Linked DNA regions of Homo sapiens: region 2 is linked to region 1. The links come from fine-mapping of genetic effects on gene expression. A gene starts in region 1. The other region holds a variant in brackets. All regions are shown on one strand. Distances are between the middles of the regions.

What was found. PIP is the estimated chance that this variant, and not a neighbour inherited with it, causes the effect. A credible set is the group of variants that fine-mapping cannot tell apart.
Region 2: its variant is the best candidate, but not a certain one, in a credible set for the expression of FMNL1-AS1 in esophagus mucosa (GTEx, PIP 0.52).

The regions. Positions count from the first base shown.
Region 1 is chr17:45,239,222-45,243,605 of GRCh38, reverse strand. FMNL1-AS1 (FMNL1 antisense RNA 1) reads left to right here and starts at 1,836. Exons shown (of 3, transcript NR_186808.1): 1 at 1,836-2,495; 2 at 3,002-3,116; 3 at 4,365-4,384. FMNL1 (formin like 1) reads right to left here. Exons shown (of 27, transcript NM_005892.4): 12 at 2,981-3,130; 13 at 2,376-2,477; 14 at 1,972-2,224; 15 at 1,460-1,759; 16 at 1,141-1,265; 17 at 286-488. RefSeq lists an enhancer at 1,726-2,444.
Region 2 is chr17:45,379,799-45,384,182 of GRCh38, reverse strand. No RefSeq gene overlaps it. Among named protein-coding and RNA genes, the nearest start is that of ARHGAP27, 51 kb to the left of the region's middle. The variant T/A (reference allele first, on the strand shown) is at 2,296.

The DNA of each region.
Region 1 (4,384 bases):
GCAGCCAGGGTCCCCATCGTACGTCAGCGGCGGACGCCCGGCTGTAAATCCCACAGCCTGGGTGCTCACAGCTAGGCAAAGAGGCAGGGAGGAAGTGGGACATCCTAATTTAGGCATGGACTGAGTTTTCTCCACCTTAAAATGGGGACAAGTTTCCTGGACCAGGGTTGGTATGAAGCCTGATGAAAGAGCTCACCATTGAGGCTCTTTTACTAGGATCTGCCTGACAACCCCAGCCTAGCAAAGGGGCCGGACTGCCCACAAACCCAGGACAGGGACACTCACGCCTCAATGGCTTGGCAGATGCGCTCGGCCCCCAGGTTGCCCTTCCGCAGGGTGATGGCCAAGTTCTTGGCCCGGTTGGCCTCAATGAGTGTCGCCTTGCTGGGGGCCTTCTGGGCTGCCTTACTCTTGAGAGCGCTGAGGTCCAGGCTGGGGCCTTGGGACTTGGTCTTGAACTGTTCCTCAAAATCACTCATGTCTAGCTCCTGAAGGTACAGGGTGAGGAGGCGGAGCTGGGTGGGGCTGGGGTCTGGCACTCTCCTGGCTGAGCACAGTGCTAGAGCCATCCATCTGGCCCTGACCAGGCCACCAGCAGAGAACCAGTAACCCAGCCTGACCACAGGCCCTGATGGGAGGCACAGGGGAAGCACAGGGAGCCTGGAGGAGGAGGGCCGCCTAACCCGGGGGATCCAGACTTGGGGCCACAAGAGCTAAAGGAAGAGCTGAACTGGCCAGCGGTAAAAAGGAGAAAGGAAAAGACATTCCAGGCAGAGGAAACAGAATGGAACAATGGCCTAGAGGCAAGAGAATACATCCTTTTGGAAAACTGGAAGTGGAATCAGGAGGGCTGAAGCCTTGGCTGCCTGTGGGAAAGTGGAAGGAAAGAGGCCTGGAGGCAGAAGAAGTGGGGTGAGGGGAGGCACCCCTCTGCAGGGATGGAGGGGAAGGCGTTTGGGAAAGCAGGATTCTGCCTGTTAGAGGTATTGGTCCAGTCTGGCTTAATGCCCATCCCTGGGCCTCCCCCTCCTCATCTGTGAAATGGCTTGGAGAAAATGACTACCCCCAGGGCCCAGCCTGATCCAGGCAACTCCCCTCTTCCTCCGGTGCCCACATGGGGAGCCAGGCAGGGCCACTCACCTGCAGCACCTTCTCATCATTGAGCTCTGTGAAGACAGTGCCGGTGATCTGGCTGGGTTTCAGTGCCACCCAGTTCAAGAGTGGCATTCGGAACTTAGTCTGGATGGGCTTCTTGGCCTTCACTCCTGGGACGGGGGTTTGGGGGCAGTGGTGAGCACTGGGGGTACTACTGGAGGGAACCTGGGCCCAGGGAGGGCTGATGGGGCAGCCAGGAGGCAGCAGGAGGCCCCCAGGCAGAGGACCCTGGAGGACACTGAGGCCCAGGCCCCTCCCTCCATCTCCCCCCAGCCCCGGGCCCAAGGTGGTCCACTCCACTCACCTGGGCCCAATTCTGAGTCGCGTCTTCCTAGGGCATCAGGAGGACCTCCGGGAGGCGGCGGCGGCGGCGGCGGCGGCGGAGGCACCGGCCCGTCAGTGCCCGGAGGTGGTGGCGGTGGCGGGGGTGGGGGCGGCAGGTCTCCGGGCAGCGGCGGCGCAGGCGGGGGCTCCGGGCTGCCAGGGAGAGGCGGGGCCTGTGGGGGCGCAGAGGGCGGGGCTTCCTGCGGGGAGGGGAGGCCGGGCAGTGGGGGCGGCGGCGGTGGCGCTGCTCCGGGAGCCGGCTCTGCTGCAGGTGCGAGATCTGAGCCAGCGAGGGCGCGGCGTGGGGGAGGCGCGAGTCAGCTCCTTGACTTGGGTGGGCCCCTCTCCGCCTCTCCGCTCTACGCATGCGCTCCTACCTGAGCCGAGCCTACAATCCAAACCTCCCTCGCCCAACTCTGCCCGCCACAGATGCCCCTGGGCTCCCCTCCAGACCCTGCCCCGCATCCCCGCCAGCCTGAAGCTCCTGCGCACCTGGGCTGGGGGAGCCGGTCGGCACCCCCGGAGTCGGAGCATCACCGCCGCTCGGAGTTGCCACAGCGACGGGGAGGATCTCGATGGAGACAGCATCCCCCGGCCCCCGCAGAATACGGATTAACCCCTTCTCCTCCAGCTCCTCCACCTTCAGCTCCAGGGCCGAGGGCCGCGTCGGGGCAGCGGGAGGCGCTTTCTCAGGCTCTGGGGGACGCCTGGAGGGCCCCATGGCGGTCGATTCGCTGAAGCGCTCCTACGAACCCCACGGGAGGGGTCAGTGCCCACCAGCAGGCTCCTTGGCACCAAGCCTCCATCTTCTTCCCGGGGTGGAGGGAGATGTCAAGCCTAGAAGCCTCAGCTGGCCTGTTCTTGGGCGCCTGGCCTACCACCCGCCCCAGCCTCACCCGCAGGGTCTCCAACTCCTTGCGCGCCTGGCTTAGCTGTTTTTCCAGTTCTGCAATCTTGGCCATGGATTCGTTCTCCGCGTCCCGAAGCCGCTCTGTCAGCTGTAGCACCAGCACATGGTGAGCCCCGACCCGCAGCCCGGCACTGGCACCGCCGGTGAGGGGGCGGCATCAGGCATGCCTGCCTGGAAGACTGGGGGAGGCTCCCAGATCCGCTCAGCCCAGGTGCCAAGGGTGGGCCGAGCCTGGCACTCGAACCCAAGCAAATAAGGAGAGGAAACCAAGGTACCAGTGATGCGGGAGGTGGAGGGAGAGGAGGAGACTGAGCTGGGAGGGGCCCCAGGCACCCATTTCAGTTCACCTGGGGTCTGAGCCTGGGTAGAGGAGGGGCCTGTCAGTGAGGGTGCTCACCCACACTCATTGAGAAAGACACCCAACAGATTCAGGCTTTGGATTCAGGCCAGGCTCTGGGGCCAGGCAGGCAGCACCTCCAATGCACAATTATAACACTGTCTGCTGCCCAGTGCCCATGCTTGCGTGGCCCTGTGGCCCGTGTGCCCTGTGGGCCTATGATGTGCTGGGCTGGGGTCAGGACCCACTCTCACCAGCGCCACTTGCTCCTGCAGTTCCTCCATGTGCTCCAGCACAGCGTTCTTGGTCTCTGTGTCCTCCAGCAGCGCCCCCACATCAAAAATATTGTCCAGGTACGCCTGGATCTGCACCTGCAGCTTGTCACTCTCGGTGAGCCGAAGCCTCTGTCCCCCAGATGGAAGGAGTGGGGTGAGGCCTGGTGTGTGTGTGGGGGGGAGTCTTTCCAAACCACCCCCCTGCCACCACTGCCATCCAGAGGAAGGGGCCTGAGCCCTAGCCTACTTTTTCTTTATTTTTTAATATATAATTCACAAATCATAAAATCCATTTTAAAGTGTACAATTCAGTCATTCTTAGTATAGCCACAAGGTTGTGCAACCATCACCATTATCTAATTCCAGAACATTGTCATCAGCCCAAAAAGAAACCCCACAGGCGTCAGCAGTCACTTGCCATTCTCTCCTCCCCCAGTCCCTGGCAACCACTAATCTACTTTCCATCTTTATGGATTTACCCATTCTGGACATTTCATATAAAGCAATCATAGATAGCTGGGCGAGGTGGCTCATGCCTGTAATCCCAGCACTGTGGGAGGCTGAGGCAGACGGATCACCTAAGGTCAGGAGTTCAAGACCAACCTGGCCAACGTGGTGAAACCCCCGTCTCTACCAAAAATACAAAAATTAACCGAGTGTGGTGGTGGGCACCTATAATCCCAACTACTGGGGAGGCTGGAAAATCACTTGAACCCGGGAGGCAGAGGTTGCAGTGAGCCAAGATCGTGTCACTGCACTCTAGCCTGGGCAACAGAGCAAGACTCCATCTCAAAAAAAAAGCAATCATAGAGTACGTGACCTTTTGTGTCTGGCTTCTTTCACTTAGCATGTTTTCAAGGCTCACCCATGTTGTACCATGTGTCAATACTTCATTCCTTCTTGTGGCTGAATAATACTCCATTGCACAGATAGACCCCCCCGCCAGCCTGCTCTCTACCTTTTGTTAATCCTGGCTTTCAAAAATCCAACCCCGAAAGCCCCGCTCCTCCAGGAAACCTCCCAAAGGAAGCAGAGAAGGAGCTGCAGCTTCTCTGCTCAGCCTGGGCCAGGAAGCACCAAGCAGCTCTGCCCACCTTCCCCAGGGCAGGGAACTCCTCCATGTCCTGGGCCCATCCAGCATGAGCCAACTCCTGCTTCTACCCTGTATCTCTGGGTTCCCCATTATATGCTGGAGTCAGAGCACCTGTCTGAGGCTGGTGCTCCCAGAGCCAGACTCTGGGCTACCTTGACCTGTTCTGGTGCCTGCAAAAACAGTTCCATAGACTGGGGGCCTGGTATGTGCCAGGCACTGGTCTATGCATTTAGAGTCAAGATTATCTTCTATGATTCTCCTATTTCACAGATGGCAAAACTGACACTGAG
Region 2 (4,384 bases), 140 kb before region 1:
GTTCGGTAAATATGAATGAATGAATGAACGAATGAATGAATGAATGAATGAATCTCCCTCTGAGGTCATGTAAACACTTCCAATTCAATGTATCCCAGATTGATTTTGTCATCTCCTCTCTCCCCATAATTTCCTTCTCCTGTCTTTGCTACCTCTCTCCTCCCAGTCCCCCAGTTTAGAAATCCCAGTGTTGGCTGGGCACGGTGGCTCACGCCTGTAATCCCAGCACTTTGGGAGGCCGAGGCAGGTGGATCATGAGGTCAGGAGATCGAGACCATCCTGGCTAACACGATGAAACCCCGTCTCTACTAAAAATACAAAAAATTAGCCGGGAGTGGTGGCGGGCACCTGTAGTCCCAGCTACTCAGGAGGTTGAGGCAGGAGAATGGTGTGAACCTGGGAGGTGGAGCTTGCAGTGAGCGGAGATCGTGCCACTGCACTCCAGCCTGGGTGACAGAGTGAGACTCCAACTCAAAAAAAAAAAAAAAAAAAGAAATCCCAGTGTCACTTAACACATCAACCCATCAACCAGTCACTGCTTTCCCAGATTCTACCTCCAATCTTTCCCACCCCACGCCACCCCAGCCCCTGGCTCACTCCTGGCTTAGACCCTCCCCGTTTGCCACCTGGATCTCCTCAACTGCTCCTCCCTCAGGCTCCCCTCCTCCGCCTTTGCTTCTGTGCTCATTGCCACTTGATTTCTCTAAAACACCACTCTTATTATGTCAACCCCTGCTTACCAACCTCATTGCATCCACATCCCATACAGTTGTGTTTCCCTAAGTGGAGGACTCACAAAGTGAGTGGCATATGGCATGATTCTAGGAGGTTCAAGGACCCCCATACCATGTACCAAAGGTGCACTGCAGTGATCTTTAGTAGTTGCAAAATGAGGAACTTGTTTCTTCTCTAACTCTGTCCAGCCTTTTGAGTACACCAAGGAGAGTCTCCCTGTTATCCTTCACATCTGTTTTTCTCTTGCTAATCTCTCGTTTTTGCAGGGATCAGGATCCCAGCCACAGCCACCAGCAGCAAGATATCAAGCTAGAATGGAAAGATAACATGGTCTTAATTTTATTTATTTTACAGTTACCTACTATATGTGACATGTGATATTGGGTCTTTAGTTATGGTAGTAATGTTCCATAAAATAAATTTATTTGGGAGACAATATTGCAAATTGCATATCTATCAAAGAAATAACATCCCAAATATATCAAGAACTCTTGGCGGGGTGCGGTGGCTCAGCACTTTGGGAGGCTGAGGCTGATGGATCACTTGAGGCCAGGAGTTCGAGACTAGGCTGGCCAACATGGCAAAACCTGTCTCTACTAAAAATGCAAAAATTAGCTGGGCATGGTGGTGTACGCCTGTAATTCCAGCTACTCAGGAAGCTGAGGCATGAGAATCACTTGAGCCCAGGAGGCGAAGGTTGCAGTGAGCCAAGATTGCACCACTGTACTCCAGCCTGGGTGACAGAGTGAAACCCTGTCTCAAAAAAAAAAAACAAAAAAAAACTCTTACTTATCAATTTAAAAAATCAATAGAAATAAAAATGGGCAAAGGCCTTAAAACTTAACAAAAGAGGATATGTGAGTGGCCAATAAACATGAAAAGTGATCAATTTCATTAGTCTCAGAGATATGCAAAACCACAGCATGATATCACTATACACCCACAGGGCTAAAGCGAAAAAGACAGTATCGAATGTTGGCAGGGGTGTGGAACAATTGGAAGTCTGATTTACTTCCAGTGAAGATATAAACTGTAACAACTACGTTGGAAACTGGCCATATCTGCTGAAGCTAAACATATCTACACTACCCTATGACCCAGGAATTCAATGCCTAGGTATAATTCCAGCAGAAATGAGTACATGGCATTTACCAAAGTCATGCACAAGCATGTTCATAGCAGCTTTATTCATCACAGCCAAAAATGAAAAATAACCTGTATGTTCATCAGTAGAATGGGTAACGTGGTATATTCACATAATAGAATTCTGTATCAAGTGAAAATGAATTAAGCCACACAAATGCTGAGCAAAAGAAGCCAGGCACAAAAAAGAGCAGTTGTTATGGTTCCATTTATATAAAACTCAAAAGCAGGCAAAATTAATCTATGCTGTTAAAGCTTGGAGAGTGGTTACCCTGTGGAGTTGTTCATTGGAGGGGGCTGCTGAAGACTCATAATATTCTGTTTTGGACCTGGGTGAAAAATTATTGTGTTCTTACACAAATGAAAAGTGATTGATTTGTGTACTCTTTCATATGTACATTATGCATCAATAAAAAA[T/A]TATTTAAATTTTTTTTTGAGACAGAGTCTTTCTCTGTGGCCCAGGCTGGAGTGCAGTGGTGCTATCACAGCTCACTGCAGCCTTGACCTCCTGAGTTCAGGCGATCCTCGACCTCCTGAGCTCAGGTGATCCTCCTGGCTCAGCCTCCTATGTAGCTGGGACCAGAGGTGCACATCACCACACCCGGCAAATTATTTGATTCTGTGTAGAGACAGGAGTCTCACTTTGTTGCCCAGGCTGGTCTTGAACTCCTGGCCTCAAGTGATCCTCCCGCCTCGGCCTCCCAAATTTCTGGGTTTGCCACGGTGGTAAGCCACCGTGATCAACCAAAATTACTTAAATTTTGGGTTTTTGTTTGTTTGCTTTTTGTTTTTTAACGTGAAACATTTAAAGACAAACATTAAGAAAATGATGCCGGGCGTGGTGGCTCACGCCTGTAATCTCAGCACTCTGGAAGGCCAAGGCAGGCGGATCATCCGAGGTCAGGAGTTCAAGACCAGGCTGCCCAACATGGAGAAACCCTGTCTCTATTAAAAATACAAAAAAAATAGCCAGGCGTGGTGGCAGGTGCCTATAATCCCAGCTACTTGAGAGGTTGAGGCAGGAGAATCGCTTGAAACAGCAAGGCGGAGGTTGCAGTGAGCCGAGATTGCGTCACTGCACTCCAGCCCGGAGCAACAAGAATGAAACTCCGTCTCAAAACAAAAAAAAAGAAAGAAAGAAAATGAAAGTTCTAGGCTCTGACAGCTTTAACTTGAAGGTACAGTGCAAATAGCAGGTATTTGGAGGAACTTTGCCTTGGATCAAGTCCAAATTGCCATGCCTGGCTTAGAGGTCCTGCATCATATTATAAAGACAGTTCCGCATGGTAGTTGAGAGCACAGATTTGGGAAAGGGGAGCTTAAAAAAAAAGAACACAGATTTGTGAAGTTGACAAACTTGACTTTGAATCTGAGCTGTGCCACTGGCTGTGGCACTCTAAGCAAGTTACCCAGACTCTCTGAGCATCAGCTTCCTTACCTATAAATCACCTTAGAGAATGATGGACTTGCTAAGTCGGGGGATGAAGAGGCCCAGCACTAAACACACTGCGTGAGTGGGATAGCTGCCTGCTGCTCCCTGAACCAGCCCTGCTGTTTCACACACACCTCCTTGCACCCCCAGGTGTTTGCACATGCCGTTCCTCTGTAATGCCTTTCCACCTGGCGATCACACTGCTCATCCTTCCATGTCTAGCTCAAGCGCCTCGTCCCATGTGATGCCAGCCCCAGATGGGGGCTGCATCACTCTTTCTGCATCATTCCACCCATGACATGTGCACGTCCGACGCTAATTATATCCTGTTTGGGCTATTTATATGGTTTGCCATTCCTGTAGCTGTTGGCACCATACTCGGCTCCTAGGAGGAGGCTTTCAGTACCTCCTTACTAGACAAATGAAAGAATGGACAACTCGTCAAATGATTCTAATTTCCCTGCAGCTTCCTGGCAGGGAGGGCCTGGTTCCTTTTGCGTGCTCATAAGAACATCAGACGTGCAGCCGTGTGTTTAGGGACCTTATCCATCTTATGGAGAACTGGCACCACAAGATGTGTTGTGGGTGAGTGGTTATCACCATGACGTCAGCCTCAAAGGTTAGGGATGTCCCCAAGTCATTCCAGTTCCCTTTAGCACCCTATATGGATAGGTCACCCATAAGAGCACCTCCAACTTCTACTTCATTGCAGAAGGGTAACAGGTTCCCTAAGCCAGGCACTTGCTGCATAAGAAAGGGATGCTTTTATTTTTTTTGAGATGGAGTCTTGTTCTGTCACCATGGCTGGAGTGTAGTTGTGCCATCTCGGCTCACTGAAACCTCCAGTTTCCAGGTTCAAGCCATTCTCCTGCCTCAGCCTCCCGAACAGTTGGGACCACAGGTGTGCACCACCACACCCAGCAATTTTTGTATTTTTAGTAGAGATGGGGTTTCATCATATTGGCCAGGCTGGTCTTGAACTCCTGACCTCAAGTGATTCGCCCGCCTTGGCCTCCCAAAGTGCTGGGATTACAGGCTTGAGCCACCACACTCGGCGCTTTATTTTAAACTTTT